3 linked regions of the Homo sapiens genome follow. The protein of the gene in region 1 purifies or fractionates together with the protein of each later gene. This does not show direct contact. Each region holds a gene or a part of one and is shown in the gene's direction. Other genes may lie near its edges.

Region 1 (4,963 bases):
GATTTGCCCCCTTGGGCCTCCCAAAGTGTGGGGATTACAGGCATGAGCCACTGTGTCCAGCCACATTTAATTCTTTTGTTTATTTATTTATTTATTTATTTTTAGACAGAGTTTCACTTCGACATCCAGGCTGGAGTGCAGTAGTGCAATCTCAGTTCACTGCAACCTTTGCTTCCGGGTTCAAGCGATTCTCCCGCCTCAGCCTCCTGAGTAGCTTGGGACTACAGGCGTGTGCCATCATGCCTGGCTAATTTTTGTTTTTTGTTGTTTTTTTTTTTTACTCACTCTGTCACCAGGCTGGAGTGCAGTGGCGTGATCTCGGCTCACTGCAATGTCCGCCTCCTGGGTTCAAGCGATTCCCCTGCCTCAGCCTGCTGAGTAGCTGGGACTATAGGCGCACGCCACTATACCTGGCTATTTTTTTTTGTATTTTAATAGAGACGGGGTTTCACCATGTTGGCCAGGATGGTCTCCATCTCCTGACCTCGTGATCCACCCGCCTCAGCCTCCTAAAGAGCTGAGATTACGGGCATGAGCCACCATGCCTGGCCAATTTTTGTATTTTTAGTAGAGATGGAGTTTCACCATATTGGCCAGGCTGGTCTTGAACTTCTGACCTCAAGTGGTCCACCTGCCTCAGCCTCCCAAAGTGCTGGGATTCAGGCATGAGCCACCGCACCCAGCCCTATTTAATTCTTAAGATGTAGTTTTTATATTCAGATTCTTATACACTTATTTTAAATTTTTGTTTATAGATTTTAAAAAAGAAATCAGACAGTCTCCCAAGTCAGAAGAGTCTCAGACTCCCAATTTATTAATTTTTTTTTTTTTTTTTTTTGAGACAGGGTCTCACTCTTACCCAGGCTGAAATTCAGTGGCACAATTATAGTTCACTGCAGCCTTAAACTCCTGGACTCAAGCAACTCTCCTGCCTCAGCATCCTGACTAGCCAGGACTACAGACGTTTGCCATGATGCCTGGCTAATGTTCTTATTTGTAGTAGTGACAGGGTCTCACTGTGTTGCCTAGGCTGATCTTGAACTCCTAGCATCAAGAGATTCCCACCACCTGAGCCTCCTAAAGTGCTGAGATTACAGGGGTGCACCACTGTGCCTGGCCTAACGTAAGCATTTTAAAATACCACATTCTTAGTAGTCCAAATCTATTTTGACTGGCCTTTCCTGTTAGTGGACATGTTCCATAAAACTCAGTCTTCTCTGTCTCCTGATTGATTTCATCACTGCACTTTTTGGGATAGTATTTGAGAAGATGTTCGGTAAACTGTGATATGCTATATCAATGTAAGATGATGGTGATAGTTGGAAGTAGACCGAAGAAAAATGAAGGCAGTTCTTTTCATCTGTTCATTCTTGTGCCAACTTTATGCTGATAACTTGGATATTTGTCAGATGGCTTTTTTTATTCTCTGCAGTATAGTACATGACTTAGGTTCATTCATGTCATATGACTGTGATACATTTGTAGCAGCTCACTCAATTGATATAAATAAATTTTAGTTGGTTCATTTGCATGTTACTAAATTTATGATAGAAAATGACTGCGGTAATGGTGACTTTGTGGTGTCTCCATGTTAAAATTAATTTTTACATCATAATTCTATGCCATGCTTACAATTAGTAATTCAGTTTGTTTTTTCCTTATTAGTCCATAAAATTGTGCTACTAGAAACTGTCATACTGATACTGACACTTTTGTCATTAGTTTTAAATCAGTGGCTTGCACACATTGGTGGGTGGTTCAATAAGTATATAAAACATTTTTTTTTAAGTTTTTGTTTTTTTGAGATGGAGTTTTGCTCTTGTTGCCCAGGCTGGAGTGCAATGGCGGGGGCTCAGCTCCCTGCAACCTCCTCCTCCCAGCTTCAAGTGATTCTCCTGCCTCAGCCTCCCAAGTAGCTGAGATTACAGGTGCCCACCACCATGCACGGCTAATTTTTGTGTTTTTAATAGAGACAGGGTTTCATCATGTTGGCCAGGCTGGTCTAGAACTCCTGGCCTGAGGTGATCCGCCCGCCTCAGCCTCCCAGAGTGCTGGGATTACAGGCGTGAGCAACTGTGCCGGGCTTTTAAAAAGTTTAATTCGTGAAATCAAAAGTAAAATTTCATAATCATGTCAAAATTAGGACTTTTTAGATTAAGTCTGAAGATGTTTCTTTTTCTTTTTCTTTTTTTTTTTTTTTTGAGACAGAGTCTCACTCTTGTTGCCCAGGCTAGAGTGCAGTGGCGTGATCTCGGCTCACTGCAACCTCCACCTCCCAATTCAAGTGATTCTCCTGCCTCAGCCTCCCAAGTAGCTGGGATTACAGGCATGCGCCACCATGCCTGGCTAATTTTTGTGTTTTTAGTAGAGACAGGGTTTCACCATGTTAGCCAGGCTGGTCTCAAACTCCTGATCTCAGGCGATCTGCCCACCTCGGCCTCCCAAAGTGCTGGGATTACAGGCGTGAGCTTGAAGATGTTTCTTACCAATCTCTATAACAGATTATGGTGGGGGATGAGGAAAGAAAAAGGAGTATAACACTGTTGTATTCTTAGTATCTTCAGTCCTCAGAACAACCTGAGGGGGATAATTATGTCCATGCTATAAGTTAGGCAGCTGGGACTCAGAGAAGCTAAATAACATATACAAGGTCACCTAGCTCAAAAGTGATGTAGCCAGTATTCCAGTAAAACTCAGTTTGAATTTGAGGTCTATTCTATCTTCATTCTCTTTTGCTGTCATAAAACAAGTAAAAGCAATTTGTCAGTACCTTATAACTGTAAAATGATGGAAAAAAGTATTTGTAATTTCCTAGAGAACAATAACCTATTACTGGAAACTCAGTGAAATCCTTTAAGTAAGACTTCTCTTGTAGCTTTTTTTTTTTTTTTTTGAGACAGAATCTCTGTCACCCAGACTAGAGCACATTGGCGTGATCTCCCCTCACTGCAACCTCCATCTCCCTGGTTCAAGTGATTCTCCTGCCTCAGCCTCCCAAGTAGCTGGGACTACAGGCGTGTGCTACCAAGCCTGGCTATTTTTTTTTCTTTTTTTTTTTTTTTTTGTATTTTTAGTAGAGACGGAGTTTCACCATGTTGGCCAGGCTGGTCTTGAACTCCTAACCTCAGGTGATCCGCCTGCCTTGGCCTCCCAAAGTGCCGGGATTACAGGCATGAGCCACCACACCCAACCCTCTTGTAGCTTTTAGAAGAAATTTATTTGCCAGGCATGGTGGCTCACGCTTGTAATCCCAGCACTGTGGGAGGCCGAGGTGGGCGGATCATGAGGTCAGGAGATGGAGACCATCCTGGCTAACACATCGAAACCCTGTCTCTACTAAAAATACAAAACATTAGCCGGGCGTGGTGGCACATGCCTGTAGTCCCCAGCTACTCGGGAGGCTGAGGCAGCAGAATCACTTGAACCCAGGAGGTAGAGGTTGCACTCCAGCCTGGGCAACAGAGCAAGACTTCATCTCAAAAATAAATAAATAAATAATAAAAATAAAAATAAGTTTATTTATAGCCGGGCGTGGTTGCCCATGCCTATAATTCTAGCACTTTGGGAGGCCAAGGCAGGAGGATCACCTGAGGTCAGTAGTTTGAGACCAGCCTGGCCAATGTGGTGAAACGCTGTCTCTACTAAAAATACAAAAATTAGCCAGGCATGGTGGCACATGCCAGTAATCCCAGCTACTTGGGAGGCTGAGGCAGAAGAATCACTTCAACCTAGGAGGCGGAGGTTGCAGTAAGCTGAGACCTCACCACTGCACTCTAGCCTGGGCAACAGAGCAAGACTCTGTCTCAAAAAAAAAAAAATTATTTGTATAAATGTGTGGGGTACAAGTATAATTTTGTTACATGGATATATTGTACAGTAGTAAAGTCAGAGCTTTTAATGTATCCATCACTGGAATAATTTCTCATCATCCCCCCACCCCCACCCCCACCCCCACCCCAAGGATCGCTACTCTTTGCTTTGCACTTGCTGCACACTGTGAAGGATACAGGAAATGTGTAAGTCATGGTACTTATCCTCAGCGATGTCAGATCTGGTAAAGAGAGTGAAAAGAAACAGTAATAAGCAATATCACACAATATGATTTAAATGCCAAAAATCTAAATGCTTAGGAGGAGACTATTACTAAGGGTCTAATATTTCATCTTTATGGTGGAAATGGATCTTGAGCTGGGACTTAAAGGATAGTTAGGATTTGAATGCCTAGGACGATGATTACAATGTGAACAAAGTAGTAGAATGAACATGTTATGCTTTTGAGATAATGAAGACCAGATCTAAACTATGGAAATATTTTATTTTATTTTTATTTTATTATTATTATTACTGTTTTTGAGACGGATTCTCGCTCTGTTGTCCACGCTGGAGTGCAGTGGCATGATCTTGGCTCACTGCGACCTCCGACTCCTGGGTTCCAGCAATTCTCCCACCTCAGCCTCTTGGTAGCTGGGATTACAGGCGCCCTCCACCATGCCTGGCTAATTTTTTGTATTTTTAGTAGAGATGGGGTTTCACCATGTTGGCTGGGTTGGTCTCGAACTCCTGACCTCAAGTGATCCGCCCACCTCGGTCTTCCAGTGTGCTCGGATTACAGGCATGAGCCTCTGCGCCTGGCCTATTTTATTTTATTTTTTGAGATGAAGTTTTGCTCTTACGCCCAGGCTGGAGTGAAGTGGCACGATCTTGGCTCACTGCAACCTCCACCCGCCGGGTTCAAGCGATTCTCCTGCCTCAGACTCCCGAGTAGTTGGGATTACAGGTATGCGCCACCACACCCATGCGTGGTTCGCCGTGTTGGCCAGGCTGGTCTCGAACTCCTGACCTCAGGTGATCCACCCACATTGGCCTCCCAAAGTGCTAGGATTACAGGCATGAGCCACCATGCCTGGCCTATTCATTATTTTTTAGTTGACAATAATTTTATATATTTATGGGATACATTGTG
Region 2 (4,025 bases), on another chromosome or scaffold:
TGTGTGGCCCTTTATATATATTCAGAGCTCTCAAACATAGCTATCTTGTTTGACCCCCACAGCAACCTGGAGAATGGGCAGGGCAGTCTTCCCCACTGTACGTTTGAACTGTTCTGGCAGTTGACTTTCCTGACCCACTCCTGAAATCTGAAACAAACCTGTTCATGTTTCTACCCTACTTTAAGCCTTTCTCTGGCCCATAACAGTGATTGGATTAAGCTTAATTTCTTAGCAAAGCATACAGGTTCTTCCATATAACCACTGCCTACCTGTCAAGCTTCATCTGGCACTCCCTCAGATCCAAGCGGTACAAAACTCCATTTCCTGTAGTGCACACATCTACAACTTTTTAAGCTGCTCTTCTAAAAAAACCTACTTGTCGGCCTTCCTGGTTCTTGTTTTACCACTTTCTTTTGCTCTCTAAGAAACGTGCATATATTTTTATAAAATAGCCTATACTGTAATTTACGACCATTTCTCTGCTTCATCCTACTCATCACCCCAGAGAGAACGAATATGTTGGCAGTATGTAACTACATTCAGATTTACAAATCAGACATGGCATTTGTTAATGCCCCAGTGTTTCATATTTTTGTTAGTTTTCAGCATGCCTGTCTTTCCTACTAGAGCTAAAAGGCAGGGTCTGAGCGTCTTACGCGCCTCCATCTTCAAGGCGTAGCACAGTGACTGAAAAAAACTGACGTTGAACGTGCACTAAACTGAACTGCTCAAACACCTACAGGCACAGGGCGAGGGGTAGAACCACATCGCTTGACTCTTAAGTGTGTTTCCAACTGCTCCCACTTCCCGTTTTCTTTAGAGAAACCCAGACCAAACAAGGAAAGGGAAATAGGCCACGGTAGGGTCATTACTATTGCTCCTTAAGCTTCCTCGCCGGTCCACCTACCCAGACAAGGCAAACGGAAATCTGCAGCAGGACTCAGCTTGGTGCACACAACTCCGCCCTCGCCACACCCACTCTGCAGCGTCTGGCCCGGCAATACCCATCTGGGCGCCCCTCCTGCTTCCTCTAGGCTGTGAGTACGCGTGCTGCCCCAGACTCTCCCTCCTCCACCCACACCCGCAGTGACACCCCTTCCGCCAAATTTGTTTCTCTTTCTTTCAGCGCCTGCGCGCTGTCACGTTACGGCGGAACTAATCCAGCGACGCCTGCGCTTTGACGCATTTGGTGCCGTGGAAGGGAAAAAGGGGGACTGCAGTATGCGTCACACCCGGAAGCGGCGAGCCGGAAGTGGGGTTAGCCAGGTTATCCCCAGGGGTGGAGAAGCGGAGGCCCAGGAGGAGGGGGAATAAAGAAGGTGGAGGATCCTGGCTACCACTCTGAATCCGATACCGCTTCTCTTAGACCTCAGCGACAGAAAAAGGGAAGGGTGTCTCATCCCCCTTCCTCCTCTCCTCCCTGTCCTGAGCCTTAGCCATGGCCGAGGCAGGGGCTGGGCTGAGCGAGACCGTCACTGAGACAACGGTTACCGTGACAACCGAGCCCGTGAGAAAGGCGGGGGGGCGGTGCTGTTTAGGGGTCTGGGAGATACTGGGAGGGAGGGGACAGGGATTAGAAGAGTTGTTGGAGGAGCTAGGCCTAGGGATATGGGAGGTGTGGGGTTGAATATCTAGGGCTGGGAGAATCGGAAGGTATTGGAGCTATTTGGAGTGGCAGAGATGGTGCAGGAGGCAGGTCAAGGAACTTGTAATAGGGAGGTACAGTTAGGATATAGGTGTTGCTGCTTGGGGTGGTTATGTGTGTAAGTAATAAACGAAAGGGAAATTGAGGATTAAGGAGCCAGGAAGATGTTGGGAGGAAATCAAAGGTAGTGTAAGAAAGCATGGTTGGAGGCCAACTTATCAATATTATCAATATTGATATTCGAATAAATATTTATTGAATGGATGAATGTAAAAGGAAGTGGCAGGAATGAGGAAACAAGAAAAGGAGATGAAAAGAGGTATTTTGAGAAATCAGAGAGCAAAGATGTAAATGGAGAAACAAGAAGTATTTATCCAAAAACATGTTAAGTTGCCTTCAAAGGGAGAAGGTTGCATTGGGCTTAATACTCTTGGATTAAAGGAAGTTTAGTAATTAATAGATTAGTAATACTTGCTACTAGAGATGCCAGGATGCCAGAGAATAGGTGGATAAGAGGTAGGGAGGGCTGGAGCTTGAGAATGAGAGAGGTTTTGTTTGTTTTTTTAAGAGAAAAAGAATAGGGGATCTGGAAAAAGGAAGGGAGATCAAAGATTAGGTGCTGGGGACTGAAAAATAATTTTCATGTATTAATACTACCAAGGATGATTTGGGGAGGAAGACGGAGAAACAGCAAGGATTATATTTTCCTTTGAAGAGTTGCTGGGACCTTTCCTAGGTTAGGAATTGTGTCTTCTCTTATACTGGTGGTATAAGAACAGGAAATAATACTTATTCCTCAAGGGACTATCTGAGGTAAAAGACCTGTTCTGTTTTATCTTCTGTCAGCTCCTCTGGTGCTATGCCTATGGTACTGATTGAGCTAAAGAAGAAAAGAGAGGAGGTTCCCTGGGAGGGAGTGGGAAAGGTTAGTAAGAGGGGACTAGATAGGTATGCTCATCCTTAACCTTCTAGGAGAACCGGAGCCTTACCATCAAACTTCGGAAACGGAAGCCAGAGAAAAAGGTAGAATGGACAAGTGACACTGTGGACAATGAACACATGGGCCGCCGCTCATCCAAATGTGAGTAATTGTTGGCCCGCAGTAGCCCTGGAGTTCTGGCTCCCTTCAGCATATCTTGTATCTACTCATATCCACTGGCTTTCCAGAAGCCCCCAGATGTTCATAGTTCTGTCACTTTTTTGGTGGTGCTGTGGTATCAGGGAAAGAGGTAGGGAAGGGCTAGAACTGGAATTGCCTAGGTCTGACAGCAAGAAGTGTCAGAGGTGGGAGAAGTGGGGCTTTGAATTCGTGGCTCTCTAAGAGGACAAGAGGGGTGGGGCCTGAGTCCCAGAGGGTGGGCCTGGGGAAGCTGGATCCTGGAAGGTAGGAGAAAATAGGAATTTTCACTGAGTTTGAGTGGGAATGGAACTGACTATATATCTTACCCTTCCTCCTCTTTAACTGGGCTCCTCCCTCTAAATCTAGGCTGCTGTATTTATGAGAAACCTCGGGCCTTTGGCGAGAGCTCCACGGAAAGTGATGAGGAGGAAGAAGAGGGCTGTGGTCATACACACTGTGTACGTGGCCACCGCAAAGGACGGCGTCGTGCAACCCTAGGACCGACCCCCACCACCCCTCCCCAGCCTCCTGACCCTTCCCAGCCCCCTCCAGGGCCAATGCAGCACTAAATCCCTCTCTCCTCCAGCATTCCTGTGTCTGTCTGGCCCTAAATGTATCCATGTGGCTACTTCTCCAGCCCCCTCCTTCCCTCTCTTCTGCCTGATAGAGGGAAGAGGAAGAGGAGGACGAACAGAGATCCTGAAATTCTGACTTGCTGCTATTCCAGAACCCAGCCTCCTGGGTTTCCCCAGTCCTCATTTTTCCTCCCAATACCCACCCTTCTCTCTCGAGGGATCTAGGCACCTTGGTCCCAGTGTCTTCCTTTTGTTCTCACTGCCAAACTGCCTGTCCTGGGATCTAGTTATCTTGGCCCTGCACTCTCAACATGAGTAGCGAACACTTAAATTGGGTTTTCAACAGTCCCAGCTTTCACTGCCAGGGTCCCAGTCAGATTCCAGGAATTTGCGCCCTAACTTTGCTTGCTAATCCTGGTTTAGAGCTATCCCACTAAAATATTTAATCCTAATTCTTAGTCCTTGCCTGTGAGATATGAGGTCTTACAGGAGACCTCAGAGCTCCCAGCCCTTCTCCTCCTGCTAACCCTTCTCACACCCTCAAGAGGAGTTAGAAAAGAGGTCCTTGTCATTCTCACCTCTTATGGAAAATGGAATAAGAAATAATCATATCCTTTCTTCCCACCCTTCTCCTGTTATTTAGGATTTCTGACAAAGCTGGCTTGAGATTGGTCACTTAGAGCCG
Region 3 (4,126 bases), on another chromosome or scaffold:
GTCCCAGCTACTCGGGAGGCTGAAGCAGGAGAATCACTTGAACCCGGGAGGCGGAGGTTACAGTGAGCCAAGATCACGCCACTGCACTCCAGCCCGGATAACAAAACGAGACTTCATCTCAAAAAAAAAAAAAAAAAGTAGCTGGGCATGGTGGCGGGTGCCTGGAATCCCAGCTACTCAGGAGGCTGAGGCAGAAGTATCGCTTGAACCCAGAAGGCGGAGGTTGCAGTAAGCCGAGATCGCACCATTGCACTCCCACCTGGGTGACAAGAGCAAGACTCCATCTCAAAAAAAAAAAAAAAGAAAGAAAAGAAAAAAAAATTCCCCTCTCCTTGAAGGGAGGTAGGAGACCCACCTGATCCCTCAGCTTCCACAGATGGCTCTTTCTCACCACCCTCACACTTACACACACTTGACTATGAACTCCACCATGTGGGGGTGGAGGGATTGTGTCTGCCAAAGTACATCCACAAAGCCCAGCCTAGCACGTGGCACACTGTGTGTGTTCAATACATGTTTACTGGGTTTATTTTATTAATTTAAAATAGAGACGGGGGCCAGGCGCAGTGGCTCACACCTGTAATCCCAGCACTTTGGGAGGCCTAGGTGGATGGATCACCAGGTCAGAAGATTGAGACCACTCTGGCCGACACGGTGAAACCCTGTCTCTACTAAAAATACAGAAAAAAAAAATTAGCCTGGCTTCGTGGCACACCTATAATCCCAGCTACTCGGGAGGCCAAGATAGGAGAATCACTTGAACAGGGGAGGTGGAGGTTGCAGTGAACCGAGATCACACTACTGGCACTCTAGCCTGGGAGACAGAGCGAGACTGTCTAAAAAAAAAAAAAAGGGAGACAGGGGTCTCACTATGTTGCCCAGGCTGGTCCTGAACTCCTGGCCTCAAGCAATCCTCCTGCCTCAGCTTCCCAAAGTGCTGGGATTACAGGTGTGAACCACTGCACCCAGACGTTTACTGGGTTTAAATCTGAGCCCACCCCACTCAGGGGTACAGGATCTGGTTCATTTATCTCCCAGAATGATGCCTTGGGTTGCGTCCCCTCTAAACTCTGGCACATTCCAGCCCCTCTTTGGGAGAAAGAACATCTCTTCTTGCCCAGGCCCTAGTGAGACATGCATCGCAAGACATGCTCCCCCCTTCCTCCCCGCTGGGCTCCAGCTGCTGCCAGCCCTCCAAGAAAGGAGAGGCCCTGAGTTGGGCTATTTTGGTATCTGGGGTGGGCACCCGCAGGGCTAAGGTTACCTTGGTATGTTAAGGGCTCCCTGGGGCAGGACTATATAACCCCAGAGGGACTGCCCCATGCTGACTCCTTGCTTCTTTCCAGCCGGAGCCGCTGCCTTGCCCCCCGGAGACTGAAGACATGGTGAGTGAGAATCCTCCAACCCCTGCCCAGATCCCTTAGACCTCAGGGCAGCCTCACCCTTTGAAAGAAAGTAGCTGGTTCCCAGTCCAACAAAAAGTTAAAAGGATGCTCATCTCTTTCTCGGCATCACTGATGGAAAACAGACTGTGTGATGGCCTAAAGGATCCAATCAATGATAATCCGCCCAGACATTCAACTCACAGGGGCCCAGTCCCTCTCAAAGCCTGATCCATTCATTCCTGTACTCCATCTTCCTAAGGCCCTCTGGCACCAGCCAGGCAATAACTCCCATCCCATTTTACAAATGAGAAAGTAGAGGCTCAGGCCAGGTGCTGTGGTTCACGCCTGTAATCCCAGCACTTTGGGAGGCCAAGGTGGTTGGATCACTTGAAGCCAGGAGTTCGAGACCAGCCTGGCCAACAGGCGAAACCCCGTCTCTACTAAAAATACAAAAATTAACTGGGCGTGGTGGTGCATGCCTGTAATCCCAGCTACTACGGAGGCTGGGGCATAAGAATCGCTTGAACCCGGGAGGCAGAGGTTGCGGTAAGCCGAGATCGCAGCACCGCACTCCAGCCTGGGTGACAGAGCAAGACTCTGTCTCAAAAAAAAAAAAAAAAAGAAAAGAAAAGTAGAGGCTCAAACAGGGCAAATGAGTGGCTGGGGTCACACAGCAAGTCTGAGGCTCAGAGGAGCTAGGCTCAGGACACTGAGAAGATAAGGAAGCTTCCACCCATTGTGGGGGATGGAGAGTTGGAGACCCAGGAGCCACAGACGGGAATTTGGGGAATGCAATCAAAGCAAGCCCCCTCAGCAAAGAGGTCCCAAGGAAGGGGAGACTCAGGCCAAAGGGCTGCTTTAGGAACAGGGACTCGAAGAATTCTGACTCTTAATCCATTGCCCCCAGAGAGGTGGAGGGACTGGTCCATGGGCCCCTTTGTTCAACCCTCACCCTCCAGGCACCCAAGAGGGCCAAGAGAAGGACAGTAGAGGGCGGAAGCTCCAGCGTCTTCTCCATGTTCGACCAGACTCAGATCCAGGAGTTCAAAGAGGTGGGTGAGGGGACGGGGAAACTGGAAGGCTGACCAAAAGCAGCCCTGCTGGCCCTCTCCCTGGAATGTGCACCTGCTTGAAGGAGGGGAAAGGTTTAGAATTCCTTCCTCCCCTCTCTGCTTGGGGTGGAAGAGGACAGTTGGCTGAGAGCCAGCATCTGATCCTCCTGGGGTAGGGATGCTGAGGCTGGGCCATGGGGGACCTAACCCTCCCCACCACGGCCCTCCCCAGGCCTTCACTGTGATCGACCAGAACCGTGATGGTATTATAGACAAGGAGGACCTTCGGGACACCTTCGCAGCCATGGGTGAGCCCCCTACCCCCAGGTGGGAATATTCAAGGCTGCAGAGTCTAGGAAATTCAGTGGCCTTGGGTTCCAGCCCTGTCAGCTCCACCTTGGGCCTCAGTCTACCCAGCTGAAAAATGAATGGGATCAGCTGAATTAGTGGGAAGCGCAGGCCCGGCCCCAGGAGCCTGCTCCAGCCCATGCTTCCCCCAACCCCCTCCAGGCCGCCTCAATGTGAAGAATGAGGAGTTGGATGCCATGATGAAGGAAGCCAGCGGTCCCATCAACTTCACCGTCTTCCTGACCATGTTCGGGGAGAAGCTCAAGGGTGAGTGGAGTGTCCTGGGTCCAAGGCCCCGGCTGCCTTTTCCCAGACCCTTCAGGGACCCATCAGCTTCATGTGCCCTCTGACCCCCACAGGTGCCGACCCTGAGGATGTGATCACCGGAGCCTTCAAGGTCTTGGACCCTGAGGGAAAGGGCACCATCAAGAAGAAGTTGTAAGCATCGGCTCCCCCACCCTTCCGACCCTTCCCCCACTCCACCAGCTGCTCCCACACTGACAGCCTCCTTAAATTTCTACCAAGGCTGGGCCCTGTGGCTCAGGCCTATAATCCCAGTGCTTTGGGAGGCAGAGGCAGGAGGATTTACTTGAGGACAGGAGTTTGAGATCAGCCTGGATAACACAGCATGACCCTGTTTCTAAAAACTTAACTAAAAAATTCGTGGGCTGGCCGGGCACAGTGGCTCATGCCTGTAATCCCAGCACTTTGGGAGGCCAAGGCGGGCGGATCATGTGAGGTCAGGAGTCCAAGAACAGCCTGGCCAACACGGTGAAACCCCGTCTCTACTAAAAATACAAAAATTAGCTGGGCGTGGTGGCGGGCGCCTGTAGTCCCAGCTACTAGGGAGACTGGGACATGAGAATCGCTTGAACCCTGGAGTCGGAGGTTGCAGTGAGCCAAGATCACGCCACTGCCCTCCAACCTGGGCGACAATAGCAAAACTCCGTCTCCAAAAAAAAGAAAAAAAAAAATTCGCGGGAGTGGTGGCAAACACCTATAGTCCCAGCTACTCCGGAGGCTGAGGCAGGAAGATCCCTTGAGCCCAAGAGTTCCAGGTTGCAGTGAGCCGTGATCAAACCACTGCATTCCAGCCTGGGCGACAGGGTGAGACCCTGTCTCAAAACAAACAAAAACCCAAAAATTCCTACGAAGGGTTAGGCACTGCCAGAGGTAAGGGAGTAGTTAAGATTGTGGTAATGGGCGGTAAGATTGCATTTTCACAGCAAATGTGGGCGGAGAGGGCAAAAGCGAGTGTCTGGGAGGCCAATGAAGGAAGTAGAGTGACCTGGGTTTTCAGGGGAGGCTGGGGCTGGCATCGGGGATGAGGTGCGAGGGAGT

What was found.
Region 2: the proteins of UBXN2A (region 1) and PPP1R11 purify together in Homo sapiens (affinity purification with mass spectrometry; 4 studies listed by BioGRID and IntAct, with this or other methods). This does not show direct contact.
Region 3: the proteins of UBXN2A (region 1) and MYL11 purify together in Homo sapiens (affinity purification with mass spectrometry, with the first as the bait; one large-scale study listed by BioGRID). This does not show direct contact.

The regions. Positions count from the first base shown.
Region 1 is NC_000002.12:23,946,070-23,951,032, forward strand, and holds part of UBXN2A (UBX domain-containing protein 2A), read left to right. Parts: intron 1-4,963. UniProt on the Homo sapiens protein: Acts to repress the ubiquitination and subsequent endoplasmic reticulum-associated degradation of CHRNA3 by the STUB1-VCP-UBXN2A complex in cortical neurons.
Region 2 is NC_000006.12:30,065,973-30,069,997, forward strand, and holds the start of PPP1R11 (E3 ubiquitin-protein ligase PPP1R11), read left to right. Parts: upstream 1-1,225; 5' UTR 1,226-1,438; coding exon 1,439-1,507; intron 1,508-2,617; coding exon 2,618-2,726; intron 2,727-3,131; coding exon 3,132-3,334; 3' UTR 3,335-4,025. UniProt on the Homo sapiens protein: Atypical E3 ubiquitin-protein ligase which ubiquitinates TLR2 at 'Lys-754' leading to its degradation by the proteasome.
Region 3 is NC_000016.10:30,373,476-30,377,601, forward strand, and holds the start of MYL11 (myosin regulatory light chain 11), read left to right. Parts: upstream 1-1,326; 5' UTR 1,327-1,382; coding exon 1,383-1,385; intron 1,386-2,344; coding exon 2,345-2,437; intron 2,438-2,669; coding exon 2,670-2,745; intron 2,746-2,947; coding exon 2,948-3,052; intron 3,053-3,144; coding exon 3,145-3,223; intron 3,224-4,126. UniProt on the Homo sapiens protein: Myosin regulatory subunit that plays an essential role to maintain muscle integrity during early development. Plays a role in muscle contraction.